Linked DNA regions of Homo sapiens. The protein of the gene in region 1 purifies or fractionates together with the protein of each later gene. This does not show direct contact. Each region holds a gene or a part of one and is shown in the gene's direction. Other genes may lie near its edges.

The links.
Region 2: the proteins of TGFBRAP1 (region 1) and CCDC85C purify together in Homo sapiens (co-immunoprecipitation; one large-scale study listed by IntAct). This does not show direct contact.
Region 3: the proteins of TGFBRAP1 (region 1) and TIGAR purify together in Homo sapiens (co-immunoprecipitation; one large-scale study listed by IntAct). This does not show direct contact.
Region 4: the proteins of TGFBRAP1 (region 1) and GSR purify together in Homo sapiens (co-immunoprecipitation; one large-scale study listed by IntAct). This does not show direct contact.
Region 5: the proteins of TGFBRAP1 (region 1) and HDHD5 purify together in Homo sapiens (co-immunoprecipitation; one large-scale study listed by IntAct). This does not show direct contact.
Region 6: the proteins of TGFBRAP1 (region 1) and CAPG purify together in Homo sapiens (co-immunoprecipitation; one large-scale study listed by IntAct). This does not show direct contact.
Region 7: the proteins of TGFBRAP1 (region 1) and AARS1 purify together in Homo sapiens (co-immunoprecipitation; one large-scale study listed by IntAct). This does not show direct contact.

What each region holds. Positions count from the first base shown.
Region 1 is NC_000002.12:105,309,236-105,312,735, reverse strand, and holds part of TGFBRAP1 (transforming growth factor-beta receptor-associated protein 1), read left to right. Parts: intron 1-3,500. UniProt on the Homo sapiens protein: Plays a role in the TGF-beta/activin signaling pathway. It associates with inactive heteromeric TGF-beta and activin receptor complexes, mainly through the type II receptor, and is released upon activation of signaling.
Region 2 is NC_000014.9:99,597,708-99,601,207, reverse strand, and holds part of CCDC85C (coiled-coil domain-containing protein 85C), read left to right. Parts: intron 1-3,500. UniProt on the Homo sapiens protein: May play a role in cell-cell adhesion and epithelium development through its interaction with proteins of the beta-catenin family. May play an important role in cortical development, especially in the maintenance of radial glia.
Region 3 is NC_000012.12:4,355,713-4,359,212, forward strand, and holds part of TIGAR (fructose-2,6-bisphosphatase TIGAR), read left to right. Parts: 3' UTR 1-3,500.
Region 4 is NC_000008.11:30,696,847-30,700,346, reverse strand, and holds part of GSR (glutathione reductase, mitochondrial isoform 1 precursor), read left to right. Parts: intron 1-211; coding exon 212-266; intron 267-3,500. UniProt on the Homo sapiens protein: Catalyzes the reduction of glutathione disulfide (GSSG) to reduced glutathione (GSH). Constitutes the major mechanism to maintain a high GSH:GSSG ratio in the cytosol.
Region 5 is NC_000022.11:17,137,020-17,139,648, reverse strand, and holds the end of HDHD5 (haloacid dehalogenase-like hydrolase domain-containing 5 isoform 2 precursor), read left to right. Parts: intron 1-910; coding exon 911-1,099; intron 1,100-1,291; coding exon 1,292-1,628; 3' UTR 1,629-2,129; downstream 2,130-2,629.
Region 6 is NC_000002.12:85,397,310-85,400,366, reverse strand, and holds part of CAPG (macrophage-capping protein), read left to right. Parts: intron 1-1,081; coding exon 1,082-1,231; intron 1,232-1,584; coding exon 1,585-1,677; intron 1,678-2,214; coding exon 2,215-2,347; intron 2,348-3,057. UniProt on the Homo sapiens protein: Calcium-sensitive protein which reversibly blocks the barbed ends of actin filaments but does not sever preformed actin filaments. May play an important role in macrophage function.
Region 7 is NC_000016.10:70,269,007-70,272,506, reverse strand, and holds part of AARS1 (alanine--tRNA ligase, cytoplasmic), read left to right. Parts: intron 1-534; coding exon 535-726; intron 727-2,166; coding exon 2,167-2,311; intron 2,312-2,743; coding exon 2,744-2,889; intron 2,890-3,500. UniProt on the Homo sapiens protein: Catalyzes the attachment of alanine to tRNA(Ala) in a two-step reaction: alanine is first activated by ATP to form Ala-AMP and then transferred to the acceptor end of tRNA(Ala). Also edits incorrectly charged tRNA(Ala) via its editing domain.

The sequences.
Region 1 (3,500 bases):
AGCATCTTTAAAGATGCTGACTAAGATTCTGACTATCACCAGTGGCAGAATCTTTAAAATGACAATGTGCATATTCTTAACCTGGTAGGAAATAATTACTAATATTTTTATTTTGACCCTTAGCATGTATTGCTTTATACTATTACTGATTTATTTTTCTAGTCCTATTTCCTTAATAGGACGGGGAGACTCTTAGGAAGTGGGATTGTGTCTTGTAATTGTTTAGTTTTTTGCAAACTTAGAGGTGCTTGCTGCATATGCAAGGTTAGCTTAATTAAATTATGGTCCTTGAGCATCCTAGCATTTTCCAATCTCTTCCCTACCTGGGTATGTATTTTGAAATTTTAAGAAAACATTAAAATGTTGATCTTTTAAATTATTATAATCATACTTTTAAAGTGAATTTTTTAAATTTAATATTCTTATTTTTTTTAAAAATAGAGACCAAGTCTCAATATTTTGCCCAGGCTGGTCTTGAACTCTTGGGCACAAGTGATCTTCCTGCCTGGGCCTCTCAAAGTGTTAGGATTATAGGTAAGCCTTAAAGTGAAGTTCTAACAAAAAGTTTAAATTTTCGATCATTTTGAGATCACACAGTAAAGTATGAATTTTACACCTTAGAGAAACGTTTCCTTTTGAAACATTACCATGTTGAAACTTCTCTGATTCAGAACCCCAGCAAGTTATATTTAATAGAGGTGTGGCCTAAAGTTTATCTTTTTATGATTCATATTTTATCTAAGTAAATATATCATGTGAATTAGATCATGGAGAGAATTTTCCCACTGCTTAAAAAAAATAGTTTTTTAAATTAATTTTTTTTTTTTGAGATGGAGTTTTGCTCCTGTCACCCAGGCTGGAGTGCAGTGGTACGATCTCGGCTCACTGCACCCTCTGCCTCCCAGTTCAAGCGATTCTCCTGCCTCAGCCTCCTGAATAGCTGGAATTACAGGTGCCCGCCACCATGCCTGGCTAACTTTTTTTTGTGTGTGTATTTTTAGTAGAGACGGGGTTTTGCCATGTTGGGCAGGCTGGTCTTGAACTCCTGACCTCAGGTGATCCGCCTGCCTCAGCCTCCCAAAATGGTGGGATTACAGGTGTGAGCCACCACTCCTAGCCAATTTTTTTTTCTTTTTTCTTTTTTTTTCTGTGTGAAAGCATCTCACACTGTTTCCCAGGCTGGAGAGCGGTGGTGCAATCATGGCTCACTGAAGCCGCAAACCACTGGGCTCAAGCAACCCTCCTACCTCAGCCTCCTGAGGAGGAGGGAATACAGGTGTGCCCCACCAGGTCTGGCTAAGTTTTTATATTTTTTTTGTAGAGACAGGGTTAAGGATAAGTCATTTTTAAGTGCTAGCATGTTACTTCTTCAGCTTTCATTTACCTCCATGTAATTCTGCATTATTACCATTTAATTACCAAAGCAAGTCCTTAATTTAAAGGCCTATAATAGGAAGCTTATCTTTAGCAAGGCTTGAATAACAGTTTACTAGATAATGAAACAATATTGCATTTGTTTTTAAATATTATAGAGTTATGACTTTTTAGTAAACCATATGTTTTTTTGTTTTTTGTTTTTTTTTTTTTTTTACAGCTCTCTCTCCCTCTCCCCTTCTCTATCTACCCCAGGATTTAGACTAAATATGAGGCGTTTGATTCTTTCTATAATATTCTTTACTGCAAATGTGTTTAGTTTATCCCTTATGCTAACTGAAGACAGGGGCTGGAATTATGAATATTATACTTTTAAGAAGCTAAATAAAAGGAGTTTGATTGTAGGTGCCCAGAGTTTGTTTCTCTATTCCTTCCGCAAAGGGAGACACAATTTATATTTTAAATGGCAGAACTGCTTACTCCTGCCATTTAAAAAAGACAACCCTGATTGATTAATCAATGAAGGAAGAAGTATTTTGTATTACTTCACTTTCACTAACTTAGATGTCTGGAAGCTGACATTTCAATATCTGGGTTTTACTCATTAGCTCTTAAATGGAGAAAAAAATGTTGTCTAGGTGGGTTTTGGTGGTTATGTTTGGTTGGGACAAATACATGATGTTGTTTAAGAGCTGTTTGTGCCAGAGACTATTTGTAGAAGCCTGCAAGAGTTCTGCACTCGGCCTCACCTGGGATTCTGGGGATGTTCCCACAGCCCCGAGGTAGATGGACATGATTCCTTCTCTGTGGTGCCTTTAGAACCTCCCTCTACACTTCCCCCAGCTCTTTTCCATAGTTTCTGTGAAGATGAGCTCCCGTAGGTGAGTGTGAAGATGTCTTAGGGGTGGGGCAGGTGTGTGAGTGTGTGTTCTGGCTTATGATGCAGGCTGTGTTTTGGCGGAGGTGAACAGGTTACCCATATCTGAGGACAGAAGACAGCATAGTCTAATCTCTTGGTGCCCAGCTTGGGAAATAAACACCTGAAGCAAGCTGGTAGTTTGAGAGAGGAGTGAGAGCTGATCCAGACTGGGAGGGAATCATAGTATTTATGATGAGATCCAAAAGTTTGAGTGCTGTGTGCCAGCTGTCCGCATTTTATATGAGGTCACTTACTTAATCGTCCAACAATCCTATGAAGTAGGTACCGTTATTCTCATTTCACAGATGAGGCAGTTGAGGCTGGAATAGCCAAGTGTCCATTCCAGCTGCTGTAACAAACTACCATACACTAGGTAATTAATAGATAATAGAAATGTATTGCTTACCGTTCATGGAGGCTGGGAAGTCCAAGATTAAGGCATGGTAGGCTCAGTGTTTGGTGAGGGCCCATCCCTCAGGGGTGGTGCCTTGCAGCTGCCTCCTCACATAGTGGATGGAAGGAACAAATAAGCTCTCTGGGGCCTCTTTAATAAGGGCACTAATGCCATTCATAAGGGCTCCACCCTCATGACCTAATCACCTCCCCACCTCCCAACACTACCACTCTGGGGATTAAGTTCCAACATATGAATTTTAGGGGGACACAGACATTCTGACCATAGCACCAAGTAATTTGCTCAAGTGATGGGAAGAAAACAGGAAGGACTGATGTGTCTACAGACAAGCCTCCTCCTCAACCCTGGGGTATCCTCCCTCCTGGGGGTTTTGTAGAGCTAAGGAAGGGGGCTGGAGTCTCACTTGTGTGTAGCTGTCATTGCCCCCATGGATGGGGGCAGACACAAAATTGTAGAATTCCAAATTTTCTATTTGAAAGGCACCAAAGAAGTTCTCTGATTCCTTCCCTTCCCTGATGCGTGAACCTTTCTTGAATATTTCTGAGAGGTCTTCCCTGCTTTGCTGGAATGCCTCCAAGTATTAGGAACTTAAGCTCTCATGAAGCAGCACTGTTCCATGTTCAGACAACTTGAGATGAGGAAGTGACAGTGATAGCAGCCTTTCACTTCAAGCTCTCTGAACATGCAGCAGTGCTGACGCAAGCCCAGCCAGCTGCCCTGCAGCTCCCGTCATTCTCTGCAGTCCTCTTTCCAGCTCTCTGATCCCCTGCCCTGCTCCCGCTCACAGGGACT
Region 2 (3,500 bases), on another chromosome or scaffold:
AAATTCAGCATTATTATTACAAATTTCGGTTACAGATGGAATTATTATTATTTAGTTTTGTCTCTTAAAGCCATGTGTGGCCTTGGGATGTGGTCCCACTAATGTAAATGGAAGGCTTGGAAACCAGGAAAGGCCCTTCTCTTAGAAACTGAGCTGTTCTTTCTTTCTTTTTTCCCTTTTTTCGAGACAGGGTGTCACTCTGTCACCCAGGCTAGAGTGCAATGGAACACTCATGGCTCACTACAGCCTCAACCTCCCAGGCTTAAGTGATCCTCCCAGCTCAGCCTCCCAAGTAGCTGTGATTAGAGCCATGAGCCACCTCACCTGGTGAAACTGGGCTTTTCTATTCTGGGACTTGTAACTTTAAATTGAGCAAAGATTGGGCCTGAGCTGAGGGAGATAATGAGTCTCTGTCTGGGTGGTGTCTAAAGTGGGGTCAGACACCAGGCTTGCGCCTTATGTGTTTGGTCTTTGCTTCTTCTCACAGGAACCCTGGGGAAGCAGTATTATCCCCATTTGACAGACAAGCAAGTGGAGGCTTAGAGGGGTTCCTAGCCTTGTCTGGGAAGGTGGCTGACATTGGAAGTACCTGTCCTGGGTGGGTTTGCTGCCATGATCATCTCGTGTTCAGGCCTTGGGTCTGAATCTGTTGTGCCCTTGGTCTGTTGTCATGTTTGCTGTTACTGTTAATCAGGGGACACTGGTGACTCCCTATTCTTGATTCCTGACCCAGGTTTGCCCTCTTTCTCCCATGCTGGGAAGTGTCACTTCCTTATCAGTGACCATTGAGCAGATGGCTGATAACCCCGTTACCCAGAGGCTCAGGGTGACTTGAGTTTGAATCTCAGCTCCTCCATGTATACTGGGCAAGTTATTAACTGGCCAAGCCTCTCTGTGCTCCTCTTCTGTAAGATGGACAGAACCCAGAGTGCCCCATTATTCACACAAGGTTGAGTGAGGTCAGGATCTACACACAGTAGGTTTCTCCTGTTGTTAGGGTCCTTGGGGCTCTCCCAACAGACCTCAGTTTCCTCTTCAAAAGTGCTTGCTGCTTAGACAGCTCACCTGAATGTTTGCATCTGAGCCTCTTGTGTGGCAGCACTTGCTGATGAGCTAGTGAGGACAGTGGCCCTGCTGTCCTTTCTGGGGAGCTGGTGGCAGTTGCAGCCCTGCTGGGTGCCCTGGGCAGACTCTAGTGGCTGAGGTGGGAGGTGGCCCATCTGTATGCAAGGCAGCCCTGGCTGAGGCTGGCCTGGTGGGCCTGTGTATTGTGTATGTACATGCAAATAGGCTTTTCTCCTTGGCTGCTTATTTATTTATTTATTATTTATTTAGAGACAGGGTCTCTCTGGTCACCCAGGCTAGAGTGCAATGGCACCATCATGGCTCGCGGCAACCTCAACCTCCTGGGCTCAAGTAATCCTCTTGCCTCGGCCTCCTGGGATGTGTGCTACCATGCCCAGATAATTTTTGAATTTTTTGTAGAGACTGGATCTCACTATGTTGCCCAGGCTGGTCTCGAACACCTGGGTTCAAGCAGTCCTCCTGCCTTGGCCTCCCAAAGTGTTGGGATTACAGACGTGAGCCACTGCACCTGGCCTTGGCTGCCTTTGGTAGAGGTCTGGTCTGGGCTGACTGGACTTGGGACTGGGCTGTGCGTTGCTCTAGTCCAGTGTGGCACACTGAGACAGGTAAACCCCAACACCAGAAAGTCAGGTTCTCCTTCATGAACTGATAGGATTTTCAAACAAAAGAATTTTCAGTTCTTTTTCCAGCTGCCCCTCCGCCTGTCTCCTGTGCCCCACGACAGGCACCATGCCCCCCTCCTGCCCATTGCCAGGCATTTCCTTCCCTCCCCTGATAACCTGCTCCTCCACGGTCCACTCCCCTTTAGCCAACCTGGAGGAACTAGGATTCTAGCAAGCCTGTGCATGAGCCCCATTTACTTTTTAAAGTTCGGATTAAAATTTTGAGCTTCTCAAAATGAGACAGGTTTGTTCTCCTGCTTGTGTTTTTGTTGGTTTAAGAGGGAGGATGGAACGGGGTGGTCTGGGCCTTTAGAAAAAGACAGAGCACGCTAACTCTGAATAGGTCTTTTCTGTGCAGCAGCTCGGCTAATAAGGCTGCTTTTCCTAAACCCAGCCAAGCTCAGGAACAAAGGTCAGTGAAGACAATGGGGTGGGTTAGATAAGCCTTTCCCCCTCCTTCCCCAGCCTGTCCCAAGGGATCCATCAATGGCCTTGGGATGCTGGGCCTCAGAAAGGAGGGCTGGCCTTGAGAGGCTCCCAGGCAGGTGACCCAGGGGTGGGTAAACTGTGCCCAGTGCTTCACAGTTTGCCACAAACAGCATCCCAGTCCCAATTCCATTCTGTTCAGAGCTTCCAAATGGTCCCAGGAGGGAGACCTTAGCATCTCCATATCTTAGATGGGGAAATCAGGGCTTGGAGTGGTGGTGCGGTGACTTGCTCTAGGTCCTGTGGGGCTGATTGGGGGGCCTGGGATGCGTCTTGGGTCTCCTGTGTCAGAATTCTGAGCCCATGGCCCTGTGCCTGCTGCCCAGAGAGTTCCAGGGGAGCGGTGACCTCTGCCACAGAGACAGGGCACCTCCTCCCAGGATGCCAGGCCCGGGGCCTCATTCCTGTCTCCCTGTGTCCTGGCATGGAGGAGTGGGGGAAGGCGGTGCAGGGTGGGCCACCTTCCCTACGATGGCTGTGGCTCCCCATCTCTTGGTTTCTCCTTCCCTCACTTCTCTGCACGAGGCTGGCTTGCCACCGCAGCAGTCGCCCCACCAGACCTCTTGCTCAGGCCTGGCCTCTGAGTTCCCAGGACCAGCACGTGATACAGAAGGAAATCAGTGGTTGCTCCTAATCTGTTTTCCGCCGGTGGGGATTTTCCAATCCATGCTTGTTGCCTTCATTTGCGCAGAGAATTGGAAGTCTGTTAAGCAAGTTCCTGAGCCTCCATGGGCCTCTGTTTTCTCTTTTGCCAAGTGGGAAAATGTTACTAACCTTTGGGTTGAGGGAGGAGGGTGTGTAGTGAGTGATACGTGTAGCCTCTGGCGGGTGGCAGCCCCTGATGTGCGAAGGCCCCATCTCCCGCTGCAGCGCTCGGCACCCCGCATGCCGAGGGGCATGTAGCCCTCTGGTTAGTGATCTGCCTCCAGGGTCAGAGAGCCCTGGGTGAATCTTGGCTTTGCCACCTGCTTTATGGCCGTGGCAGCTTACTGAACCTCTAAGCCTCAGTTTCTTCATCTATATCCTGAGGCTAATAATGTCTCGATCCTAGAACTGGGCCTTAAAGGATGGGTTCCATGTCCTTTCATTATTTCCTGGCCTCTGCGGATTTGCCTTCCCTGGGTGGGAGTGGGAGATCCCCTGACACACGCTGGTACCCAGTGTAGGGTCGGAGGCAGCTGAGTCCTCATCTAGTTGAATGGAGGGAGCCAGCATTCCAGGCAGGAATAAGAATGGCTAAGGTTTGGAAGTGGGGTCTGGAGCATG
Region 3 (3,500 bases), on another chromosome or scaffold:
GTCAGAGAAGACAGTGTGTTGGCTCACATTGTGGTCAGTGCTGTTGAGCAAAATAGGTCAGAGTAAGGGGGATGGAGACTGGTGGGAGGAATGCTGCTTTATCCAGGATGGGCAGGGAGGACTCGATGGTGTCAGCACTGAAGGATGTAAGATCTGCTGCTCTGGGGAGAGGAGCAGCATGGAAGGAGTAGAGTGCAGAGGCCATGAGGAAGGATCAGGCTTGACTCCTTTGAGCAAGGGGGATGGGAGAGTGACGGGAGAAGAGGACAGGCCACATGGCCTGGTGGCCTGTGCTGAGGCCTTGGGCTTTTACTCAAGTGAGATGAGATGCCATTGGCCAGTTTGGGCAGTGATGTGATCAGACTTGTTTCAGCAGGACCATCCTGCTTGCAATGTGGAGAGCAGGCTGTAGGGGGTGCTATAGGAGCACAAGGTTGGAGGCAGGGAAGATGGCAGCACTGGCTGTTGGGCCATTTGAAGAAGCAAGGCCAGGGATGTTGGCAGGGACCAGGCCAGAGTGCCTCCAATGGCTAACTAAGGAGCCTGGACATTGAATTTCTAGGTTAGCTTAGGATTTCTCATCCTCCCATCTGTGAATGTCATAGATCTCTCATTTTGCCTGAGTCTTTTATGCAATGATATTTTATTTGTAATATTTTCCCGGTTTTTGATTGTTTTTTAACAAATGAATTTTTTAAGAGACTTAATTTTTTAAGAGAAACTTTAATTTCCCAGCAAAAGTGAGAGGAAGGTAGAGAGATTTCCCATCTATCCCCTGCCCCTACACACGCATTGCTTCTCCTACTATCAACATCCCCCACCAGACCAGTGCATCTGTTACCATCGGTGAGCCCACATTACACTGACATATCCACATCACCTGAAACCCATAGTTTACATTAGGGTTCATTCTTGGTGTTGCATGATCTGTGGGTTTGGACAAACGTATGAAGACATGTATTCCACCATTATAGTATCATGCAGAGTATTTTCACTGCCCTAAAAGTCCTCTGTGTTCCCTGTACTCATCTTTCCCACCTTGTCTTGCCTGTTTCTGTTAGGTTTAGTCCGAGGCCTAGCAGAGGGAATGGGCAGAAGTTTCCAGTTCCAGGCTTCACCCCAGGCTCGCAGCTTCAAGCAGAGCCTGTCGCTTAGGCTCCCTTGCACCTGGAGTCGAAACCATGGCTCCCATTCACCTGTCTCTTATTTTCCTGTCCTTCCCACTCCTCACTCACCTACTATTCATTTCCATTTTTGGATGAGGATTCTCCTTTATTGCTTTTTAACTAAAAACCTGTTTTAGTTAGCATCTTTATTCTAATTTCTTTAAATGCTATGTCATACTCAGCAAGGACATGCTCATATTAGGGGAAGCACATAAAGTAAGATATCCCTGAGAGAACAGTGCATCTCACACCCATTCCATGGCTTAGGCTTATGCAGGAAGTGCAATATTTGGCCATATCACTTAAGTACATATGCTTATATTATGTATACTTGCATGCATATTACATTTACAAGTAGATGAATTCGTGTAAGTTAAATGGTTCTATTATATGTCTTCACTATATTAAGGTCAGTCACAATTTAATTGAAATAGATCATCCTAGGTGAATCCACCTGGCATAATTATCAGCCCTGTTAAGCACAGACACAGGAGATGCAAAGGAAAGAAGTATTCAGTAGAGCGGTGGTGCTGGGCTGAGTACCTGCTATCAGACGCAGCACTTACCAGTTTGGAAATTGAATGGGGCTCCTAGAAAACATCCTTGTTTCATGTAAATGTTGCTTTTTACCCCTCTTTCTTTGGGCCCCATCAATTTGGAAGTACAGCTTTCAGATTGAAGTATGTGTCAGTTCCTTTGTGTCCAAACAAGATGGCTAAGTAGGTCGTCATGACAGGTAACTACCAGTGCTTTAAAAACTTTAGGATTTCCCCCCACAGTTCTCAATCACTTGGTTCATTGTTCAGCAATATGGCCTAAGGGGGTGATTTCTTCATTGATAAGTGACAGGGCAGGGACACTGGAAAGATCTATTGTCAGAAGGCCTGGATTCAGGTTCAAGGCCTGGTTCTTAGTAATTTTGTGACCAAGCAATCGCTGAGGTGGCTGGGCGTGGTGGCTCGCACCTGTAATCCCAGCACTTTGGGAGGCCAAGGCGGGCAGATCACGAGGTCAGGAGATAGAGACCATCCTGGCTAACACAGTGAAACCTCGTCTCCACTGAAAAATAGAAAAAATTAGCCAGGCCTGGTGGCCGGCGCCTGTAGTCCCAGCTACTTGGGAGGCTGAGGCAGTAGAATGGCGTGAACCCGGGAGGTGGAGCTTGCAGTGAGCCAAGGTCGCGCCACTGCACTGCAGCCTGGGTGACAGAGCAAGACTGGGTCTCAAAAAAAAAAAAAAAAAATCATTTGATAAATAATGGGCTGTGCATGGTGACTCAGGCCTGTAATCCCAGCACTTTGGGAGGCCAAGGTGGGTGGATTACCTGAGGTCAGGAGTTCAAGACCAGCCTGGCCAACATGGTGAAACCCTGTCTTTACTAAAAATACAAAAATTAGCTGGGCGTCTCCAAAAAAAAAAAAAAAGAAAAAGAAAAATCACTGAGCTACTGTATCCTCATAGAGAATAATTACAGTAATGTGTATGTGCGTGTGTTTTGGTAATCTTTTATCTTGGATTTATCAAACCTACAGAAAAGTTGCAAGAACAGTAGAAGGAATGGCTGTATACTCTTCACACTTATTCACCACTTGCTTACCTGTTGTCCCACTTGCTTTGCCATTTTTTCTCTCTCCCTCTGTTTTCCCCTGAAACATTGGAGAGTAACTTTGAGTCCTCATACTCTTCCCCTATAAAATTTCAATGTGTGTTTCCTGAGATCAACAATGTTCTTATATATAACCCAGAATAAATATCTGAGTCAGGAAATTTGACATTGATATTGCCTATTAGCTAATCCTTAGACCAAATTTAAATTCTGTCAATTATTTTGTTGATGTACCTGTGGCTTTTTTTTTTTTTCTGAATCAAGAATCCAATCAATCCAGGACTGTGTGTTGTGTTGCATTTAGTTGTCATGTTTCTTCATGTCCTTCCGTCTACTCCTTTGCCTTCCTTTGCCCTTCTTTTTTTCTCCCACCATCTATCTAACCAGATGAACTTTGTCTTTCTTGATCTTGTTACTTTTTAAAAAATAGGTGAGTTCTTGTGGTTTTTTTTCCTGACATATCCTCATTATTAGATTTGGATTGTATACTTTTGTCAGAAGCAGCCCAGAAAGGATGTGTCCTTGGTCATGTCAGGAGGGACAGGACGTTGTATCAATATGTCTGGTTCCTCATTAAATTTGCAACTACTCTTTTAGCCTTTATTGTTTATTTTCTGACTCTGTTTTTTTTTTCTTTAGCCAACTCACGCCATGACTCTACTTTTGCTTCTATGTTTATTAGTTGGCATTCTGTACTAAGACAGCTTTACCCTTCTTGCCTACTTATT
Region 4 (3,500 bases), on another chromosome or scaffold:
CCATCATGGCTTCTGTTTCTAGAGAGAAAATAAAAATGTTAACTCAGGGAGGATTTGGTTGGCAGCTTTCCAAGCAGAGACTTTAACAAAACTTGTCAAAACGGAGACTATGTTGGCTGTGAAAGTGTTTGGTTTTTGGCATAAAATGTTGTGATTACTTTGCAAGAGAAAGAGCAGTCTTGTGTGATCTATGTTGCCTTTTTCTACATAGGTGCCAGCTTAGGAATAACCAGCGATGGATTTTTTCAGCTGGAAGAATTGCCCGGGTAAGCCAACCTGACCTGACCTCAGTGACTCATTCTTCCTTACTGTCTCCTGGTAACTTTTCTTCGTCTTCTCCTCCCAAGCATTTAATGTAGGCCTTTCCTGAATTCCCTCCTCTTACAGCTTCTCTTTTCATGACCTTGTATATCTCATTCCTAGAACTCCTCAGTAGATCCCTCAAATCTTTCATGCTTTCAATCAGAGGCCAAAGTCAAATGCAGGGTAATTTGAAGACTGCATAGCAAAGTCCTAAAACTGTCTTCTTTCTTCAACTTAATACAGCATCAATTAAGAATGTGTCTAAAGTAGCTTGTATTTTAGAATAGAATAGCTGGTTTTGGCCAGATGTGGTGGCTCATGGCTGTAATCCTAGCACTTTGGGAGGCTGAAGCGGGCAGATCACCTGAGGTCAGGAGCTCGAGACCAGCCTGGCCAACATGGTGAAACCCTGTCTCTACTAAAACTATGGAAATTAGCTGGGTGTGGTGGTGTGGGCCTGTAGTCTCAGCTACTCGGGAAGCTGAGGCAGGAGAATCACTTGAATTCTCAAGGCGGAGTTGCAGTGAGACAAGATCACACCAAGAAAGAAAGAAAGAGAGAGAGAGTGCCACCACGCCCCGCTAATTTTGTATTTTTAGTAGAGGTGGGTTTTCTCCATGTTGGTCAGGCTGGTCTCAAACTCCTGACCTCAGGTGATCCGCCCGCCTCAGCCTCCCAAAGTGCTGGAATTACAGATGTGAGCCACCACACCTGGCCAGATTTTCTTTTAATGAACAAACATTTTTTTTTTTAGAGACAGGGTCTTCTTCCATCGCCCAGGCAGGAGTGCAGTGGTGCCATCATGGCTTGTGGTAGCCTTGAGCTCTTGGGCTCAAGCAATCCTTTCACCTCAGCCTCCCGAGTAGCTGGGACTACAAACGTGCACCACCATACCTGGTTAACTTTTTAATTTAAATTTTTGTAGAGATGGGGTCTCGTTCTGTTGTCCAGGCTGGTCTAGAATTCCTGGCCTCAAGCAATCCTCCCACCTTGGCCTCTCAAAGCAGTAGGAATACAAGCATGGGCCACCGTGCTGAATGGATTTAGATTCATAGAGGGGCAAAAAGATCATGAGGAAGTTTGTTTCTCTGATTTGAAGTTGCTGTACATTGCAGGCTTTCTAGTTTAGAGGGATGCTCCTGTCACTTGTGAGAAGAGGTGATGCCTGGAAACAGGTGGAGGGACCCAATGTGTTGGCGCAGGGACTGGCCTTCATTCATCTTCTGAGTGGCACTCACTGTGGAGTTTGCATTGCTCAACTCTTCTGCTCCCTCAGGGGCTGTGCTAATCCAGTTTGAGGTCCTAATCCTATGCTTTTAGAAGGGCTTTTAGGGAGAGTGACTCATAGTCCATGAGCCTATCTTCACTTTGATTCACCCAGAGTCATGGACAGTTCAGACAGCACGAGGCAGTTCAGAAAGGACCAGGGAGCTGCTTTGCAGTTCCATAGGATGGTGAAAATGTCCCTTGAAGATACCTCAGACCAGGCAGGCTTCTGACTTGGAGGAGTTCTAAGAAAACCATACAATCTTTTTTGGTTTGCTATCAGGTCGCAGAAATGTGTTAGAGAACAGCCTTCCTTCCCTGTGATCCACCCTGCATTGTTTGATTTTAGGGTTGAGTGACATGACATATGTGAGGATGTAGTGAGACATACAGTCATGACTCATTATGTTTGGATAATGTAATTTCATTCCGGACTCACCCTCAAAGAAGTTTCATTATAAATAGCTGTTCATTAGCAATTTTAAATATTTACATTTATGCATGTCATCAACAAAAGGCTCTGAAACACAAGAAAATGAATTTACGATTGATACGTGATTCTTCAAGTCTACTTTATCTTTGTTACGGTGTTGGTGAATAAGTAATAACTGGGCAAGTACATAAATAATGTAGGGAAGATAGCATGATTTAGTTTTTGCACTGAGGGGGCTTCTGTTTGGATGGAGCATGAACCTTGTGGAATACTGTGCATGAGTAGTCCTGGGGCTGCAACGAGGTAAAGAGAAATCTTTTAGGGATTCAGCCGCCTGAAAGATCAGTTCCAGAAGCCAGGCACAGTGGCTTATGCCTGTAATCTCAGCACTTTGGGAGGCCTGAGGCGAGCGAATTTCTTGAGCCCAGGAGTTTGAAACCAGCCTAGGCAACACAGCACAACCCGATCTCTGCAAAAAAAATACAAAAATTAGCTGGGTGTGTTGGCACATGCTGGTAGTCTTGGCTACTTGGGAGGCTCAGGCCGGAGGATCACTTGAGCCTAGGAGTTCGAGACCAGCCTGGGCAACATAGGGAGATATTGTCTCTGCACAGAGTTTTTTCCTCTCTGAAGAAATGAGGCTAAAGAGCTTTAAAAACAATGAAAAATACATTTCCCTTCTGTGACGGGATATTAGGGATTTTTCTTTTCTTTTGAGATAGGGTCTTTTGCTCTGTCACCCAGGCTGGACTGCAGTGGTATAGTCATAGCTCACTGCAGCCTCCACCTCCCAGACACAAGTTATCCTCCTGCCTCAGCCTCTCAAGTAACTGGGACCACAGACATGGACCATCATACTTGGATAATTTTTATTTTTACTTTTAGGGGTTTTTTGTTTGTTTGTTTGTTTGTTTGTTTGTTTTGTTTTTTTGAGACAGAGTCTCGCTCTGTTTCCCAGGCTGGAGTGCATTGGTGCAATCTTGGCTTACTGCATCCTCTGCCTCCTAAGGGCAAGCGATTCTCCTGCCTCAGCCTCCCGAGTAGCTGGGATTACAGGCACACACCACTGCACCTGGCTAACTTTTTGTATTTTTAGTAGAGACGGGGTTCACCATGTTGGCCAGATTGGTCTCGAACTCCTGACCAGGTGATCCACCCACCTCAGCCTCCCAAAGTGCTAGGATTATGGGCATGAGCCACCGTGCCTGGCCTTACTTTTATGTTTTTGTAGAGATGGGGTCTCACTTTATTGCCCAGGCTCAAAGGAATATTTTCTACTTAAAGTTGCAGTGGTATCCAGGATTGGATCTTGGAACAGAAAAAAAAAAAGATTAATAGAAAAACTGGGCTAGGCAAGGTAGCTTACACCTGTAATGCCGGCACTTTGGGAGGCCAAGGTAAGAGCATTGCTTGAGCCCAGGAGCTAAGACTAGCCTGGGCTAACATGGTGAGACTCTGTCTCTACAAAAGAAAATATAAAACTTAGCTGGGTGTGGCG
Region 5 (2,629 bases), on another chromosome or scaffold:
TGAGCTGAGATTGTACCCAAGCGCCAGCCATCATATCAGCATTCCAGGTGTCAAGAAGGAGTTGGGGAGGGCAGAGAGGGCAGAGAAGAATACCGTCCCCAGTTTGTTTGTTTTTTTTTTTTAGATGGAGTCTTGCTCTTTTGCCCAGGCTGGAATGCAGTGGTGCAATCTTGGCCCGCTGCAACCTCCGCCTCCCGGGTTCAAGTGATTCTCCTGCCTCAGCCCCCCAAGTAGCTGGGACTACAGGCATGTGCCACCACACCCAGCTAATTTTTGCATTTTTGGTAGAGACAGGCTTTCACCATGTTGGCCAGACTGGTCTTGAACTCCTGACCTCAGGTGATCCACCTGCCTTGGCCTCCCAAAGTGCTAAGATTACAGGCATGAGCCACTGCGCCTGGCCGCCTGTCCCCAATTTTAAGGATGCTTATTGAAAATTTAGCCCAGCATTTCTGCTTTCCTTGACTGTAGCTTAGTCACATGGCCACGCCTCGCTGGCAGGGAGGCAAGCGAAGGTCTTTTTCACACCTAGTGGCAATATGGTCAGCTGAAAATGGACACCAGCAAAGAAGGGGAGAAGCGCAACCGTAGTCTGCCTCAGCTCTACAGCAGGATTTAAGCTCTGGAGTCAGACTGAGTTGTAATCCTAGCTCTGCCCTCTTGAACAAGTTACTTAATCTTGCTGTGCCTTGGTTTCCTCGTTTTACAAATAGCGTCATCTCATAGAGTTTTTCTGAGAGGGAAATGTGAAATGCTGCCTCCAGTGCCTGCACAGTGTCTGCTACATGTCAGCTCTTACCCTGGGGAAAAGGCTGGTCTGTGTGTTTGCTGCTTAGACAGTGGCAGTCGTGTTCTCTAGAAGAGCCTGGAGATCAGGAAGACTGAACTGCTGCGTGCTCGTTTCTGGCAGGTTTGGACATGGCACCTTTCTGCTGTGCCTGGAAACCATTTACCAGAAAGTGACGGGCAAGGAGCTGAGATACGAGGGCCTGATGGGCAAACCCAGCATCCTCACTTACCAGTATGCCGAGGACCTGATCAGGCGACAGGCGGAGAGGCGGGGCTGGGCCGCCCCCATCCGGAAGCTCTATGCTGTGGGGTAGGCTCTGCTCTCCCTCCTTTGTCCCTTTTATGACATCCCCTTCTCTCCCTCCTCCTCTACTCTCACCCCCATTTCCCTATATCTAATTCACTCTTCTGCCCCGAAACTCTTCTCTGCTCCCTTTGCTTTGCAACATTGATTTAGGGTTTTTTCTCCTTTTTCCTTTTCCGGTGTGGCTGCCCCTGCCAGTGATAACCCTATGTCTGACGTATACGGCGCCAACCTGTTCCACCAGTACCTGCAGAAGGCAACGCATGATGGGGCGCCAGAACTAGGGGCCGGGGGCACACGGCAGCAACAGCCCTCAGCAAGCCAGAGCTGCATCTCCATCCTGGTGTGTACAGGCGTCTACAATCCCAGGAACCCACAGTCCACGGAGCCTGTCCTTGGAGGAGGGGAGCCTCCATTCCACGGGCACCGAGACTTATGCTTCAGTCCAGGGCTCATGGAGGCCTCCCACGTGGTGAATGACGTGAATGAGGCTGTGCAGCTGGTCTTCCGCAAGGAGGGCTGGGCTTTGGAGTGAGGGCAGTGCGGTGGAGGTGAGGGGGTGAGCCTGGACCTGTGGGCGAGTCCCATTGGCTGGGCTCTGGCCTGATCACTGGGCTCAGGTCAGGGCTTGGTTCCCTTGCCACCCTTCTTGCTGCCCCATGAGTGTGGCATTACTGGTCACTTGGAAGAAGACAGTGACTCTTTTTCCCTGCTGGGTAGCATTTTGTATGGAACGGTTGGAATTTTCTGGGCCCAGTTCCCACGTGCCTTTCGTGGCAGTCTAACCTCAGGCCATTCTCTTCCCCTGTGTGCCTCAGTGTCCTTCTCATTTCAGTAGGGACTTCTGAAATGGGGGAGGCAGTGTGGAATACTGTGGATGTCTGTGCAGAGCCTTTGCCGGCACTGAAGGCATGCAGCCTGTCGGCAGAGTGTCTTAACACCAGATGCTACTTTTTACTGTATTGTAGTTTATTGCCCGGAGATGTGGGGCTTTTTTTTTAAATAAAATAATCATAATAAATGTTCATGATGCTGACTCTTGTGAAGCTCTGTCTGGAGTGCACTAAAAGTCCTGTGGGGAAAGGAGGAGTGAGTGGTGTGGGCGGCCCAGGGTCTGGGAGATGGGTGGCATTTCAGCTCCACGAGGTGCCCACATCTCCTTTCCTACCTCCCGCCCCCAAGTCCACACCCATTCTGGGCTGTGAAGCCTGAGGCTGTCTATGAATGAGTATGCCTGGCTTTGGCATATACTTAGCAACTTCCCTGGTGTGGAAAAGAAGAGGGATCTTGTTACTGGTTTGTTCTAAAGGAAGCAGCTCTTCCTGCAGTGATTCTAGAAAACATGCCGCTTCTTGCATCCCTTCCTCTAGGAGTAACCAACTTCATTTCTTCATTTGTCTGTGTCACCCATGGCCTCAGCATCTGCAAATCCCCCAGTCAGTTCTCGTCCTCATTTTACTCCAGTAGCTGTTTGTGTTTGACATAGCTGATGCCTCCCTCCCTTGTTCTTTTTTTATTTTTTAGAGACGGAGTCTT
Region 6 (3,057 bases), about 20 Mb from region 1:
AAGGGGACAGGTGAACAGACCTCGCCATTACCAGAAAAGGAGAGGTGACAGGGGCTCTGCCTGGCAGGGCGGTGGGTAGAAGTGTGAGATGCTGCGCTCAAGGAGCCATTCAGCCATTCACCCATCCAGTCCTTCACTCAGTCAGTCAATATTTATTTTGCGCCTAAATCCATGCCGGGCTCTGTTTTAGCAGTGGGCCCACAGTGGTGAGCAAAGCCAAACAAAACCTTCATGTCCTAATGAAGCTCACTTTCTAGTAGGTGGAGATAGGTGGTTAAGAGACGTTTAAACATAGGAGATATGTGATGGGAAGAAAAATAAAGAGGTGCTGGGCGTGGCTGCTCACGCCTGTAATCCCAGCACTTTGGGAGGCCGAGGTGGGCAGATCACCTGAGGTCGGGAGTTCGAGACCAGCCTGACCAACATGGAGAAACCCCATCTCTACTAAAAATATAAAATTAGCCGGGCCTGGTGGCACATGCCTGTAATCCCAGCTACTCGGCAGGCTGATGCAGGAGGATCTCTTGAACCCAGGAGGTGGAGGTTGCGGTGAGCTGAGATTGTACCATTGCACTCCAGCCTGGGCAACAAGAGCGAAACTCCATCTCAAAAAAAAAAAAAAAAAAGAAAAAGAAAGAGGCTTGAGCCCAGCGGTTTGTAACCAGCCTGGGCAACATAGTGGGACCCCATTTCTACAAAAAATTAAGAAATTAGCCAGGCATGGTGGCAAGTGCTTATAGTCTCAGCTGCTTAGAAGCTAAGGTGCAACGATTGCTTGAGCCCATGACGTCAAGGCTGCAGTGAGCCATGATCACGTCTTTGCACTCCAGCCTGGATGACAGAGTGAGACCCTGTCTCGAAAAAAAGAAAGGAAGACAGATGGCAGGTGGGCAGAGAAACAGTTGCAGTGGGTGGTCGTGGGCATTTTCAGAGAGCCCTCTGTGCTGTGCTCTGCCTTCCTGGTTGTCCTGCCTCAGGGACAGTTCAGAGAGGAGAGAGGGAGAGCTGTGCGCCCTTCTCTGAGCTGGGGAGCAGGACACAGGCATCTGGCTCTGACCCGGACTTTCCTGCTTCCTTGCAGAACATCTTCGCCTGGTGTGGTGGAAAGTCCAACATCCTGGAACGCAACAAGGCGAGGGACCTGGCCCTGGCCATCCGGGACAGTGAGCGACAGGGCAAGGCCCAGGTGGAGATTGTCACTGATGGGGAGGAGCCTGCTGAGATGATCCAGGTTGGGGGACATTGGAGTGGGTGGCTGGGAGCCTCTGCTTGAAAGTGGCCAAGAGAGGTGGTGATGAGCTGAGGGCTGAGAGTGGCCGGTGGAGGGTGGCAGGGGCCATCTGGTGTACTGCCTAGGGCTGTGGCCAGCTCACAGGGTGCCCCTCTGGGTAGATGCTCGTCCTCGAGGCTGAGCAGCCTGGCTGGTGGGGTGGGCTGGACTCAGCCCTCACTCACCTCACCTCTGCTGGGTGCCCTAGTGCAGGGCGCAGTTTGCCCCACCAGAAGCAGTGGCCCTGGGCATGATGGGCTGGGAAGTTCCAGGGCAGGGGTCCCTATAAACCTGGCCTGCCCTGGCCCCTGCAGGTCCTGGGCCCCAAGCCTGCTCTGAAGGAGGGCAACCCTGAGGAAGACCTCACAGCTGACAAGGCAAATGCCCAGGCCGCAGCTCTGTATAAGGTGGGCCCCCCAAGCCTGCCCTGGGACCCGGCAGCAGGGAGGGTGGGAGCCTGCACAGCACAGCTGCATGCAAGCAGGGTGGAGGGGAGAAGGCAGGGGGAAGGTGGGGCTGGAACCGAGGTGGGAGGTGGGGAGTTATACAGGGCTGGGAGTGAGACAAGGATGGGGAGTGGGCGGAAGGCAGGCCCTCCTGAGGAGATGAGTGCACCTCACTTCCAGCCTATGCTTGGTGAAGGCTTGAAGCCAATGCTGAGCTTTTCTTTCTTGAATTCTGTGCATTTCTTTGTAATTTGGAATCCACCTAATTTCCAAATGGGTTCGGGGCCCCTGTGCTGCAGGGATTGGGGTGATGAGAGGGAGTGGGGCTGCCTGGAATTTGCTTTTCAGGTCTTCACTCTCTTGTCTGCTCCTGGGACCTGGGCAGTGGGCAGCGAGGCACAGTGGGAGGGACCTAGGGAGGACCAGCCTCCCCCTCCTCAGGCTGAGGTGAGGGCTGGTGTGTGGGGGGTGAGATCAGGCACTGTCCCTCCTCCCCAGGTCTCTGATGCCACTGGACAGATGAACCTGACCAAGGTGGCTGACTCCAGCCCATTTGCCCTTGAACTGCTGATATCTGATGACTGCTTTGTGCTGGACAACGGGCTCTGTGGCAAGATCTATATCTGGAAGGGTACGTGGCTCCTCTGTAACAGCCTGAGATGCCTGTAGCTGCTCTGACCCGGGCAGGCTTCCCTTTGCAGGACTCAGCCTGTCTAGCTGCTTGTAAAAGACAGCCTCAGGAAGCCTGCATGCTTCTGGCTGACCATTTTCTCTCTTTAAAAATTTTTTTTAAAAGATAGAGATGGGTTCTTTCTATGTTGCCCAGGATGGTATCAAACTCTCAGCCTCCAGTGATCTTCACCTTGGCCTCCCAAAGTGCTGGGATTACAGGCGTGAGCCATGGCATAGGCCTTGCTATTTTCTTTCTTTCTTTCTTTCTTTCTTTTTGAGAAGGAATCTTGCTCTGTTACCCAGGCTGGAGTGCAGTGGCACGATCTTGGCTCACTGCAACCTCTGCCTCCTGGGTTCAAGCAATTCTCCTGCCTTAGCCTCCCGAGTAGCTGGGAGTACAGGTGCGTGCCACCACACCTGGCTAATTTTTGTATTTTTAGTAGAGATGGGGTTTCACTACCAGGCTGGTCTCGAACTTCTGACCTCAAGTGATGCACCGGCCTCGGCCTCCCAAAGTGCTGGGATTACAGATGTGAGCCACTGCCTCGCCATTTTCTCTTTGCTGTTCCCACCTCCTAAATTCTAGACAATGGCTCTGAAACTACAGCAAGCCTCAGAATCACCCCACGGCCTGTTTAGATGGCTGGGCTCCACCCCCATAGATTCTGA
Region 7 (3,500 bases), on another chromosome or scaffold:
GAGATGGAGTTTTGCTCTCGTTGCCCAGGCTGGAGTGCAATGGCGCGATCCCGGCTCATCGCAGCCTCTGCCTCCTGGGTTCTAGTGATTCTCCTGCCTCAGCCTCCCGAGTAGCTGGGATTACAGGCATGCGCCACCACACCCAGCTAATTTTTTGTATTTTTAGTAGAGACAAGGTTTCTCCATGTTGATGAGGCTGGTCTCAAACTCCCAACCTCAGGTGATCCGCCCGCCTCGGCCTCCCAAAATGCTGGGATTACAGGCATGAGCCACCACGCCCAGCTTCTTTAGCAGGTTTAATGTGCAGGCTTAGCATTAGTACTTGCTGAAGGTTGGAACTTCTTCATTAAAAATTCTAAGAATTTTTTTTTTTTCTTTTTTGAGACAGAGTCTCGCTCTGTTGTCTAGGCTGGAGTGCAGTAACATGAGCCACTGTGCCCGGCCAATCCTAAGAATTTCTTTTGCGGTGGTTGCAAGTCTGGGCAGAACTCTTGTCAGGGGCTGTAACTGGACTTATCTTTACTCCTTTGTCAGGCTGGATGACACCAAAATCCTCCCAGGCAACATGAAGGATAACTTCTGGGAGATGGGTGACACGGGCCCCTGTGGTCCTTGCAGTGAGATCCACTACGACCGGATTGGTGGTCGGGACGCCGCACATCTTGTCAACCAGGACGACCCTAATGTGCTGGAGATCTGGAACCTTGTGTTCATCCAGTATAACAGGTAGCCTTGGGTTCCTACTCCATTCCTTTCCTTGAGCTGAGCAGGGGAGGAGGAACTCGGAGCTGTGTAGCTCTCTTCTCAGCTAAAAGCTCATTTCTTTATTTCTCAGATTACCTGTCTGATCTCTGGAACAAGGATGGGCCTATTCTTTCATGAACTAAACCTTATCGCACATAATAGCTTCTTGCGAGCTATTCCTATAATGTCATGCTTGCTGTACTTCGGGCTGCTGTTTTTTTTTTTTGTTTTTTTGAGACAGAGTTTTCCTCTTGTTACCCAGGCTGGAGTGCAATGGTGTGATCTTGGCTTACTGCAACATCTGTGCCCTGGGTTCAAGCGATTCTCCTGCCTCAGCCTTCCGAGTAGCTGGGATTACAGGCATGTGCCACCACGCCCGGCTAATTTTGTATTTTTAGTGGAGACGGGGTTTCTCCATGTTGGTCAGGCTGGTCTCGAACTCCCAACCTCAGGTGATCCGCCCGCCTCAGCCTCCCAAAGTGCTGGGATTATAGGTGTGAGCCACCGTGCCAGAACTGGACTGCTGTTTTAAAGCCTATTTCCTTGAAGCTTGCCTCAGTTTTGTTTTTGTTTTTGTTTTTGTTTTTGGAGATGGAGTCTTGCTCTGTCACCCAGGCTGGAGTGCAGTGGCAAGATCTCAGCCCACTGCAACCTTTGCCTGCTGGGTTCAAGCGATTCTCCTGCCTCAGCCTGCTGAGTTCTCCTGCCTCAGCCTCCTGAGTAGCTAGGGTTACAGGTGCATGCCACCATGCCAGGCTAATTTTTAAAATATTTTTGGCAGGGATGGGGTTTCATCATGTTGGCCAGGCTGGTCTCGAACTCCTGACCTCAAGTGATTCCCCCGCCTCGGCCTCCCAAAATGCTGGTATTACAGGCGTGAGCCACCATGCCCAGTCTTTTTCTTTTCTTTTTTTTTTTTTTTTTTGAGATGGAGTTTTGCTCTTGTTGCCCAGGCTGTAGTGCAATGGTGAAATCTCAGCTCACCACAACCTCCGCCTCCTGGGTTCAAGCGATTCTCCTGCTTCAGCCTCCCGAGTAGCTGGGATTACAGGCATGTGCCACCATGCTCGGCTAATTTTGTATTTTTAGTAGAGATGGGGTTTCTTCATGTTGAGCAGGCTGGTCTCGAGCTCCTGACCTCAGATGGTCCACCACCTCGGCCTCCCAAAGTGCTGGGATTACAGGCATGAGCCACTGCGCCTGGCCTTTCCTCACTCTTAAATGAACCCCAGAGTTCATTTAAGAATGAACTCTTCCTTTCTCCTTCCTTTCTCCCTCCACTTCCCTCTTCCCACCAAACCGGGCAAATGGCAGATGGTCACAGCCTGCAAACTGTTCTGTAAATGAATTTTAACCAGCAGGGACTGGAGAGGTGGCAGCTTGAGTCTCTGCTTCAACCTCCTCTTCTTCTGGATCATACAGGGAAGCTGATGGCATTCTGAAACCTCTTCCCAAGAAAAGCATTGACACAGGGATGGGCCTGGAACGACTGGTATCTGTGCTGCAGAATAAGATGTCCAACTATGACACTGACCTTTTTGTCCCTTACTTTGAAGCCATTCAGAAGGTACTGGTGCTATTGCAAACATTGTAAACTTCTGTGGAGTTTTCCAGGCTGTACTCTTAACAGTGCTGTCAAAGAAAAAATGACCATATGCTTTGCCAGCCAAGGGTACCCATTTCCATCTGCCTACTTCATTGTTAATAATGTGAGGCTCCACAAATTGGTGTTCTAAATGTCTTAAGAACCTAATTAAATAGCTGACTACAAAAAAAAAATAATAATGTGAGGCTCTAGACCTGAGACAGTATAATTTTTGAGTGTAGGGGCTGGCTGGAGTCTCTCTACTTCCCCAATGTCACGTTCTTGGGGTTATAGGATCTGGCAAGACCGGCATCCTTTCTGCTAATGCTCCTCAATCCTCCAGGAACCTCCTTGGGCAAGGTAGCGCCAGAAAGTCTGCTTCCTAAAGGGCTGCCTCCTGATTCTTATCTATAGGGCACAGGTGCCCGACCATACACTGGGAAAGTTGGTGCTGAGGATGCCGATGGGATTGACATGGCCTACCGGGTGCTGGCTGACCACGCTCGGACCATCACTGTGGCACTGGCTGATGGTGGCCGGCCTGACAACACAGGGCGTGGGTAAGTATGCTGCACACTGGGTGGTGTTTGGAGCGGCACCACGTGTGCTATGTGTGACTCTTTATGAAACTTTTCTTTGTGTGTGAGATTGAGTGTTGCTCTGTTGCCCAGGCTGGAGTACAATGGCGTGATCTTGCCTCACTGCAACCTCTGCCTGCTGGGTTCAAGTGATTCTGCCTCAGCCTCCCACGTAGCTGGGATTATAGGTGCACACCACCACGCCTGGCTAATTTTTGTACTTTTAGTAGAGACGGTTGTTTTTTTTTTTTTTTTTTTTTTTTTTTTTTTTTTTTTTCTGAGACAGAATTTTGCTTTTGTTGCCCGGGCTAGAGTGCAATGGCCCGATCTTGGCTCACCGCAACCTCCACCTCCTGAGTTCAAGCAATTCTTTTCCCTCAGCCTCCCGAATAGATGGGATTACAGGCATGAGCCACCATGCCTAGTTTTGTATTTTTAGTAAAGATGGGGTTCCTTCCATGTTGGTCAGGCTGGTCTCAAACTCCCAACCTCAGGTGATCCGCCCGCCTCGGCCTCCCACAGTGCTGGGATTACAGGCGTGAGCCACCGTGCCCGGCCAGAGGTGGGGTTTTGCCATGTTGGCCAGGCTGGTC